2 separate regions of the Homo sapiens genome follow, and region 1 is linked to region 2. Evidence: fine-mapped expression QTL. A gene starts in region 2. The other region holds a variant in brackets. All regions are shown on one strand. Distances are between the middles of the regions.

The links. PIP is the estimated chance that this variant, and not a neighbour inherited with it, causes the effect.
Region 1: its variant is the best candidate, but not a certain one, in a credible set for the expression of TRIM65 in tibial artery (GTEx, PIP 0.57).

What each region holds. Positions count from the first base shown.
Region 1 is chr17:75,945,626-75,950,977 of GRCh38, reverse strand. ACOX1 (acyl-CoA oxidase 1) reads left to right here. Exons shown (of 14, transcript NM_004035.7): 9 at 14-204; 10 at 1,081-1,260; 11 at 1,378-1,483; 12 at 1,618-1,761; 13 at 2,521-2,727; 14 at 4,183-5,352. The coding sequence ends at 4,230. Among named protein-coding and RNA genes, the nearest start is that of FBF1, 7.3 kb to the right of the region's middle. The variant A/C (reference allele first, on the strand shown) is at 2,463.
Region 2 is chr17:75,894,294-75,899,293 of GRCh38, reverse strand. It overlaps TRIM65 (tripartite motif containing 65), which reads left to right and starts at 2,343. Exons shown (of 6, transcript NM_173547.4): 1 at 2,343-2,770. The coding sequence starts at 2,357. It overlaps MRPL38 (mitochondrial ribosomal protein L38), which reads left to right. Exons shown (of 9, transcript NM_032478.4): 8 at 1-136; 9 at 308-650. The coding sequence ends at 444. RefSeq lists enhancers at 1,209-1,916, 1,917-2,626 and silencers at 1,994-2,473, 2,504-3,073.

The sequences.
Region 1 (5,352 bases), 52 kb before region 2:
CTTGTCCTCTCAGCTTCATGCCCTCACCGCTGGACTGAAGGCTTTCACCTCCTGGACTGCAAACACTGGCATTGAAGCATGTCGGATGGCTTGTGGTGGGCATGGCTATTCTCATTGCAGTGGTCTTCCAAATATTTATGTCAATTTCACCCCAAGCTGTACCTTTGAGGGAGAAAACACTGTCATGATGCTCCAGACGGCTAGGTGAGAGTCAAATCCTCGATTCCTCCCATCTGTTCATAAGAATGTTCTAGTCCTTTTCCTAGGTTCTTGTTCCCATGGTTTTTCTTCACCGTATATATATATTTGTTCCTGAAAGGTATACTTTTGCCTTCCATCCTGACTCACGGTTTTTATTTCGTGGTGAGGCTAGAGAGTATGAAGCACCTGTTACATAGCTTGCAGTTGTATCAAGGATAGAGTTACTGGGCTGGGCACAGTGGCTCATGACTGTAATCCCAGCACTTTGGGAAGCTGAGGTGGGCAGATCATGAGGTAAGGAGTTCAAGACCAGCTTGATCAACATGGTGAAACCGTGTCTCTACTAAAAAAATACAAAAAAATTAGCCGGGCATGATGGCACATTGCCTGTAATCCCGGCCTACTTGGGAGGCTGAGGCAGAAGAATCGCTTGAACCTGGGAAGCGGAGGTTGCAGTGAGCCAAGATTGCGCTATTGCACTCCATCCTGGGCAACAAGAGCGAAAACTCCATCAAAAAAAAAAAGGCCAGGTGTGGTGGCTTACTCCTGTAATCCCAGCACTTTGGGACGCCAAGCCGGGTAGATCACTTGAGGTCAGGAGTTAAGAGACCAGCCTGGCCAACATGGTAAAACCCTGTCTCTACTAAAAAAACAAAATATTAAAAATTAGCCAGGAATGGTGGCAGGTGCCTGTAGTCCCAGCTACTTGGGAGGCTGAGGCAGGAGAATCATTCATTTGAACCCAAGAGGAGGAGGTTGCAGTGAGCTGAGATCTGGCCATTGCACTCCATCCAGCCTAGGCAACAAGAATGAAACTCCATCTCAAAAGAAACAAAAGAAAGTAGAGTTACTAAAAGCATGTTTACTGGTGACTTTTAGGTTCCTGATGAAAAGTTATGATCAGGTGCACTCAGGAAAGTTGGTGTGTGGCATGGTGTCCTATTTGAACGACCTGCCCAGTCAGCGCATCCAGCCACAGCAGGTAGCAGTCTGGCCAACCATGGTGGATATCAACAGCCCCGAAAGCCTAACCGAAGCATATAAACTCCGTGCAGCCAGGTGAGCTCTCCCTCAAGAGCTAGAATACGCAGCAGTGGGGCTGGGGCCCTGACAGATGGCAAGAAGGCATGAGTACTGTTGATCATTTCCTCAGACCTCCAATCTATGTCTTAACAGATTAGTAGAAATTGCTGCAAAAAACCTTCAAAAAGAAGTGATTCACAGAAAAAGCAAGGAGGTAGCTTGGAACCTAACTTCTGTTGACCTTGTTCGAGCAAGTGAGGTCAGTGGTAGTTCTCTCTTTTTCCCCTTCCCTGCCCTCAGCATCCCGCATTTTCTGGTACAGAAACCCTAGTCACTGTATATTGAATCTTTTTCCAAGGTTCTCAAACTCTGGTGTTTTCTTTTTAATCTTAGGCACATTGCCACTATGTGGTAGTTAAGCTCTTTTCAGAAAAACTCCTCAAAATTCAAGATAAAGCCATTCAAGCTGTCTTAAGGAGTTTATGTCTGCTGTATTCTCTGTATGGAATCAGTCAGAACGCGGGGGATTTCCTTCAGGTCAGTATTTTCTAAGTATAAGTCTTTTTTGTTGTTGTTTTAAGAAAAATAATTGTTGGCTGGGCACGGTGGCTCATGCCTGTAATCCCAGCACTTTGGGAGCCCAAGGCGGGTACGGTGATCACTTGAGGTCAGGAGTTCAAGACCAGCCTGGCCTGGTGAAACCCTGTCTCTACTAAAAATACAAAAATTAGCCAGGTGCAGTGGCACATGCCTGTAATCCCAGCTACTAGGGAGGCTGAGGCACGAGAATCATTTGAACCCTGGAGGCAGAGGTTGCAGTGAGCCAAGATGAAACCACTGCATTCCAGCCTGGGTGACAGAGCAATACTCTGTCTCAAAAAAAAAAAAAAAGAAAAAGAAAAATAGCCAGGCACAGTGGCTCATGCCTGTAATCCCAACACTTTGGCCAAGGCGGGCAGATCACCTGAGGTCGGGAGTTCGAGACCAGCCTGACCAACATGGAGAAACCCCATCTCTACTAAAAATACAAAATTAGCCAGGTGTGCTGGCGCATGCCTGTAATTCCAGCTATTTGGGAGGCCAAGGGAGGAGAATTGCTTGAACCTGGGAGGCGGAGATTGCGGTGAGCCAAGATCACACCATTGTACTCCAGCCTGGGCAACAAGAGTGAAACTCAGTCTCAAAAAAAAAAAAAGAAAAAAATAATTGTCATCCGCTTTATAGCTGTATATGCATAT[A/C]ATTATGTCTATCTATATACATATATATGTTTTATTTACTTATTTTGGTCTCTTTTAGGGGAGCATCATGACAGAGCCTCAGATTACACAAGTAAACCAGCGTGTAAAGGAGTTACTCACTCTGATTCGCTCAGATGCTGTTGCTTTGGTTGATGCATTTGATTTTCAGGATGTGACACTTGGCTCTGTGCTTGGCCGCTATGATGGGAATGTGTATGAAAACTTGTTTGAGTGGGCTAAGAACTCCCCACTGAACAAAGCAGAGGTAAAAATCCAGTGTCTCTGCACCTTTTTAAAAGTCTTCACTTAAATATTGAAGCAGGAAAGGCCTCTCGAAGGGGATTTATCTGTGAAAGCTCTGAAAGTACCATGGCCACTTCTGACAGTCACTTTATTTGAGCAACAGGTTCAGAAGGGAACTGGGTTGTTCCCACAGTAACCAGGGTCTTAATCAATTTCAATTTTTGATAACGAATTGAACATTTAAAAATATATACAGGCCGGGTGCGTTGGCTCACACCTGTAATCCCAGCACTGTGGGAGGCCGAGTGGGCAGATCACCTGAGGTCAGGAGTTCGAGACTAGCCTGGCTAAAATGGCGAAACCCAATCTCTACTAAAAATACAAAAAAAGCAGCCAGGCAGTAATGGTGCACGGCTGTAGTCCCAGCTACTCGGGAATTCTCCTGCCTCAGCTTGAACCCAGGAGAACCCAGGAGGCGGAGGTTGCAGTGAGCCACGTTCGTGCCATTGCACTCCAGCCTGGGTGACAAGAGCAAAACTCTGTCTCAAAAAAAAAAAAAAAGTATACACACACACACACACACACAAATAGAATAAAATATACAAAAAGAGAATTCCGTAGTGCTCTTTGGTACACCCTTTGTCTAGCAGCAATGACTATCAACTCGTGGCTAGTTGTGTTTCATCTGAACCTTCATCCCCCTCCTCCTGGGGACTATTTTGAAATAAATCTAAGACATCAGGGCCAGGCTCAGTGATGCACACCTGGGAGGCCGAGGCAGGTGGATCACCTGAGGTCGGGAGTTTGAGACCAGCCTGACCAACATGGAGAAACCTTGTTTCTACTAAAAATACAAAATTAGCCAGGCGTGGTGGCGCATGCCTGTAATCCCAGCTACTTGGGAGGCTGAGACAGGAGAATTGCTTGAGCCTGGGAGGCGGAGGTTGCGGTGAGCCGAGACCATGCCATTGCACTCCAGCCTGGGCAACAAGAGCGAGGCTCCGTTTCAAAAAAAAAAAAAAAACTAAGACATCAGATAATTTTATCCATAAATAATTCAATGCATAGCTCTAAAAGATAAGGACTCTTCAGAAACAACCACAGGCTGGGCACAGTGGCTCACGCCTGTAATCCTAGCACTTTGGGAGGCTGAGGTGGGTGGATCACTTGAATTGAGGAGTTCTAGACCAGCCTGGCCAACATGGTAAACCCCCATCTCTACAAAAAAATACAAATAGCAGCCAGGTGTCATGGCACACACCTGTAGTTCTAGCAACTCGGGAGGCTAAGGTGGGAAGATCGCTGGAGTCTGGGAGGCAGAGGCTGTAGTGAGCCAAGATTGTGCCACTGCACTCCAGCCTGAGCAACAGAGCAGGACTCAGTCTCAAAAAAAAAACAAAAACAAAAACAAAAAACAGTATACTATTTAACATGGCAAACTCTTTATTAGTAGTTCTTCTCTCTCCTTTCCCCACAGGTCCACGAATCTTACAAGCACCTGAAGTCACTGCAGTCCAAGCTCTGAAGTGTCACAAGGACAAGTTTAATCTGCTTCAGAAAGCGCCTGTGTGCAACTCAAATTTTGTGGAATCTTTTTCGAATTCAAATAGCTATAGAGCAAATGATAAATTGACCCCTTTTTATAAATGGAGGGAAAAAATGAACAGATTTCAGAGATTAAATGAAAAAAAGCAGATGTTTTAAGTGCAATTAACACTGAAAGAGACCTGTTAAACCATTCAGAAAAAGCTTAAGAAATGCGATATGACTTCCTTTTGTAATGCTGCTGATCCCAGTAGACTATGACTTTTGATAATTAGCAGAATTTAACTACTGAGTAGTTGATTATTTTCACATTTTAATTGCTAATCACTGGCTATATAAGTGTTTTTAAGCAAAGGTATTTTTGAAGTGGTGTAGAACCCTTCCAAGCTTTCCTGCTCAGTGTTCTACCAGACTTACCCTGGGGCCTGGCTTAAAAGCAGGATTGAAGAAAAGGGACTGGGGGAAGGAAACTTATTGGAAAACTTGATGCGAATGAGTTTCTGCTTGGCACAGTCTCTGCCTGCTTGCTCTCCTTTGCTGATGGATTGCATTTATCAAACTATTCATGCTAGCATTTTTCCAACGAGGGAACTTATTCCGCACGGGCCTACTGTAGGACCATTGTCTCGTGTAATTAGGAATTTTCCATTTGAAGGATTGCTAAATTGTCACAGTAGTAGGAAGTATAGGGAAACCTCTCAGCTGTGGCACTGTTGTAGCTTTGGAGTGCAGAGTGTAACTCTGGGACAATCAGATTTCACATATTCTGTCATCTTGGCATAAGCCATTAAAAGCTTGGAGATTACTGTATTTGGCATTAAAAAAAAATGTCACTTAGGTCAGCACTCCCAGACGTAGCACAGAAAAACCCTTTGACACAAACCATGTGTTCTGATTTTTGGTTCAGAAAATATTGAAACTGTGAGTTGTTTTTTTTTTAACAACTGGGAAAAAACAAAAACAAAAAACTATAGTTAGAAAAATGGAAGTTCCATAGGTTCTATTTCTTACTCTATGTATGGCTTTGTTTTCAGTCTATTTCTAGGAGCTTTCTCTGAATCGCTAATTGTCCTTTCAGTTGAAATCTAATTTATACAATCAT
Region 2 (5,000 bases):
TATCAGCTGGCCCAGCGGACCTTCCGCACTTTTGATTTCTACAAGAAACACCAAGAAACCATGACTCCAGCCGGCTTGTCCTTCTTCCAGTGCCGCTGGGATGACTCCGTCACCTACATCTTCCACCAGCTTCTGGGTAAGGGCCATGGGGCTGGGGCACTGGGTGGGCCTGAGCTCCCAGGCCTCGCCTGCCCTGCCAGGGAGAAGCTTTGTTAGGGGAAGGCTGCGGCAGGTCCCTGGTGGGCAGGCCTCAGCCTGAGGGGGCGCAGGCCAGCAGACCACCCCGTACCCCTCACTCTTCTTGCAGACATGCGGGAGCCGGTGTTTGAGTTCGTGCGGCCGCCCCCTTACCACCCCAAGCAGAAGCGCTTCCCCCACCGGCAGCCCCTGCGCTACCTGGACCGGTACAGGGACAGTCATGAGCCCACCTATGGCATCTACTAAGGAGCCAGAGTGTGCGCATTTCAGAGCATGGGATTGATCGGCAGCAAGAGTAAAGACACAGCTCCAGAGGCCCACACTGTGGGGTCTGGGCCCTGCCTTAGGCAGCCCCCCTCTTTGGCCCCCTCCCGTCAGGCCCAGGGCTTGGAGTGAAAGTGACTCTCAGGTGGTGGGGTGGGGAATGTGAATAAACATGATTTCTTGCCGGGCTTGGTGGCTCACACCTGTAATTCCAACACTGGGAGGCTGAGAAGGGAGGGTCGCTTGAGCCCAGGAGTTCAAGACCAGCTGGCAATATAATGAGACCCTGCCTGTATTTTTTAAAAAAAGGGATTTCTGCCATAGCTGGCCTGGGTCGGTGCTCCAGGGCCAGAGGACCCCGATGGAGCTTCATGGGTGGGAAACGGGCTGCCTCCCACCCCACTAAGTGCGTCCTCACCTCCGTCTTCTGAGGGTGTCAGGGGCCCTGGGATCCGAAGCAAAAGCAGGCAGTGGGCCAAAAACAGGTGTGGCCCAGGGAAGGGAGACATCCCAATCCAGCAGGTTCCTGAAACCCAGCTCCCCGAAAAAGTGGAGCAGAGCAGCTGGGCTCAGGAAGGAGCATTTATTGAGCACTGGCTCTGTGCCTCAGGGGGGTCCCACCGGCCCCTGGAGAGAGAGTGCCTGCCCGAGCACTGACCCTCTGCACAGGCTCCAGCCCCCACCCCATGCTTGGGAGGAGAAGCCACATTAGGTAGGCAACAGCGTGTCTCAAGAGACCTGCTCAGGGTCAGAAAACCCATGGAGTCTTGCGGCTGGATGGTTAGGTGTTTTGTTTCTCCCTTACCAAAAGCAGAAGTCTGGCTAACTAGTAGGTGGAGGGTAGATCCGTGCACTTTGTCCAGAAAGAAACTTCGTCTATGGCCGCACAGAGGACGCAGTGCTTGCTGCAGCAGTGAGAGCTCGTGCCGCCTCAACATCAGCCCAGCTTGGTTAGAAAGGCCGTACTCTCCTGGGGTTCCCCCTGGCCTGATACACACTGTCAGGTAGGTGGGCGCTAGGCCCCAGACCCGCCTTGCCTGCTCAGCTTCAGGGGAAATGCTGGAGTGCCTGTAAATACTGAGGCTGCAGATCAGCTTGGACCCCAGGCAAGGAACTCTCCCCAGCGGAGGGCAGCAGGAAGAGGGGATGCTGATTGCAGATGAAAGCTGGTTTGTGTATTCATTCAGGGCCATTTGAAAAATACCAGTTAACTGGTCCCTGTCTCTTGGTGACCAGACATTTCCATCTCGCTGTTTACTTTAAAAGAACCAAAATTACGTGTAGCCCAGAGAAGGGAGACACCCCAGTCTGGCAAGTGTCCGAAACCCAGCTCCAGGAAAAAGTGCAGCAGTGCTCGGGTCTGCAGGGAGCCCGCCAGCCCGTTTCATCGCCAAGCCCCGGGGGATTGTTGGGGGTGGGGGTCTATGCTGTTAGGCGACTGGCAGATGAGTCCAGAAGAGGTTCCGCGCGGCCCGTGGTCAGAAGCCCGGAGTCCTGGCGGGGTTTTCGAGCCTCTGGTCTCCAGGACCTGGGCTGAAGGCCCAGGGGGGTGGGATGGACCCGCCAGGCTGGGACCCTAGAGAGCCGAACTCAGCTCTCAGCCGGGGTGGCGTGGACCCTAACGGAGGGAGGGGCGCAAGGCGGGAACGCGGAACCTTCGAGCGGGCCAGGCCGAGGTGGGCAGGGGTGGCCTAGGCCCCTGCGGCGGTCGCTCGTCGAGGGTGTCAGAGAAGGGCCTGCCGCCCCCCTCCGCCTTCCCGGGCGCGGATCTCGCCCCGCCCCGCCCGGATCTCGCCCCGCCCCGCGTTAGCCACGCCCAGGCGCCCTCAGCGCGCGAGGCCCGCGGTCCCTTTAAGACGCCCGGGGCCCGCCTGGCTCTCGCCGCCGCCGGGCCATGGCCGCGCAGCTGCTGGAGGAGAAGCTGACCTGCGCCATCTGCCTGGGGCTCTACCAGGACCCAGTGACGCTGCCCTGCGGCCACAACTTCTGCGGGGCCTGCATCCGGGACTGGTGGGACCGCTGCGGAAAGGCGTGCCCCGAGTGCCGGGAGCCCTTTCCCGACGGCGCCGAGCTGCGCCGCAACGTGGCCCTCAGCGGCGTGCTGGAGGTGGTGCGCGCCGGGCCCGCCCGGGATCCCGGCCCCGATCCCGGCCCCGGCCCCGACCCTGCCGCGCGCTGCCCCCGCCACGGGCGGCCGCTGGAGCTCTTCTGCCGGACCGAGGGCCGCTGTGTGTGCAGCGTGTGCACCGTGCGCGAGTGTCGCCTCCACGAGCGGGCGCTGCTGGATGCCGAGCGCCTCAAGCGCGAGGTGACGCATCCGCCGGGAGCGGGAGGGGTCCGGACCCGCCGCAGCCTGGCCACCGCCGGGTGACTCCTGCGGGCCGCGCCCTGCTCTCTCGGGCACCCGGCGGGGGCGGGGAGCCTCATCTGTAAGGGGCTTCTCCCAACCTGGGAGCTGATTATAAAAGTCGTGGGTCTGCCAGGCGCAGTGGCTCACGACTGTAATCCCAGCACTTTGGGAGGCCGAGGCGGGCGGATCACGAGGTCAGGAGATCGAGACCATCCTGGCTAACACGGTGAAACCCGGTCTCTACTAAAAATACAAAAAGTTAGCCGGGCGTGGTGGCGGGCGCCTGTAGTCCCATCTACTCGGGAGGCTGAGGCAGGAGAATGGCGTGAACCCGGGAAGTGGAGCTTGCAGTAAGCCGAGATCGTGCCACTGCACTCCAGTCTGGGCGACAGAGCGAGACTCCGTCTCAGAAAATAAACAAACAAAAAATCGTGGGTCTGTGCATCAGACTGGGATATGCAGCCCGGCCAGTGACACAGGGTGGGTCTCAGAAGCTGCTCGGTGCCCTCTGGATGAACAAAGCCTGGGCGTGAGGCAGCAGCTCCCTGCTCCGTGCCCAAGCGCTAGAGAACCGTCGTGTGTCTCCTGCGCTCCGAGAGCCTCCTTTCATTCGCTGTGCGGGGTTGTGGAGGGCGAGGGGGCTATGGGGGCTGTTGGTAAATGGATCAGACGAGCTCCCTGCCCTTAAGAGACTTAGAATCCACTTAAGAAGTCAGTGTTCCAGTAAGGCGTGAATGTATTATTACAAAATGCAGTGAGGAAAGCACATGGCATGTGATAGAGGGGTTGGGGTGACCCTGCTAAACGGGCCAGGAGGAGGAAGGGGAGGCCGCCTTCAGGCTGGCATGTGAGGATTGAGGAAGCGCAAGCCAGGAGAAAGACCTGGGGAAGAGCATTCTAGGCAGAGGAATCAGCCTGGTCCCGTCTCTGGGATGGGAAAGAACTGGGCACGCGGGGTCCCTAGTGGCAGATTTGTGCCACTGAGATCTGTGGGCCAGGCCCTGGGGGTCAGCAGGGGCAGGATCGGGCAGGGTCCTGGGGGAGTCTGGCTCTTACTGTAGGGTCATGGGGGCCATTATAGGCTTGGAAGCAGGTTGGCACATGATCAGATTTGGGCTTCATGGAGACTGATCACCTGGCTGGGGGCTGAAGGGGGCAGGATGTAAGACCCGAATCGGGTAGGAGTGCAGGGAGGCAAAGAACCAGCTGGGGATCAGGGAAGGGAGACCAAGATGGAGGAGGAGATGAGAAACGCTGAGGGGAAGTGGTACCTTGTGGAGGCGAAAGCAGGCCAGAGGGGACACGGGGGACAGCAGAGAGGGCGGCAAGGGAGACACCTGGGTTTCTGTCTTGAGCACGCAGGTGGCTGGGGTGCTATGTCCTGAGAGGCGTAGGTGGAGGGCAGAGTTTGGCCTTGGACATATAGAGGTCACAGTGGCCAGTGGGACAAACCAGGGGACGGGCCTGTGGCACCTGGGACCCTGGCCCCAGCCCTGCCGCGCGCTGACCCCGCCCCGGGCAGCTGCTGGAGCTCTTCTGCCAGACCAAGGGCTGTTGTGTTTGCAGCTTGTGCACCATGAGTGAGGGTCACCTCCTCAAGTGGGTGCTGCCGCCAGGAGCAGGAGGGGGCCGGACCCCCCGCAGCCTGGCCACCACCGGGTGCAGTGGCTCACGCCTGTAATCCCAGCACTTTGGGAGGCGGAGGCCGGTGGATCACGAGGTCAGGAGATTGAGACCATCCTGGCTAACATGGTGAAACCCTGTCTCTACTAAAAATACAAAAAATTAGCCAGGCCTGGTGGCGGGCGCCTGTAGTCCCAGCTCCTCTGGTGGCTGAGGCTGGAGAATGGCGTGAACCCGGGAGGCGGAGCTTGCTGTGAGCTCCAAAGCTCAGGAGCGGGGAGCTGGAAGTCGAGAGCTGGGAATCATTAGCGCTAGGAGGAAGAGAAGGTTCCAAGCTGGAGCTCCCAGGGAGATGGGGAAGGTCGGGGGAATGGCAGCCCTGTGTGGCACCTGGAGACAGGGGTGCCAGGAAGAGAACGGGCAGGATGCCCATGCTGATCAGAGGCTCAGTACGAGGACAGAAATGACCTTCAGCATCGGTACTGTGGAGGTGGTCCGTGCCCTTGACAAAACCCATTTCAGCAGCGAAGACAGGATGTGGAATCATTCGGGGACAGAGGAGGCC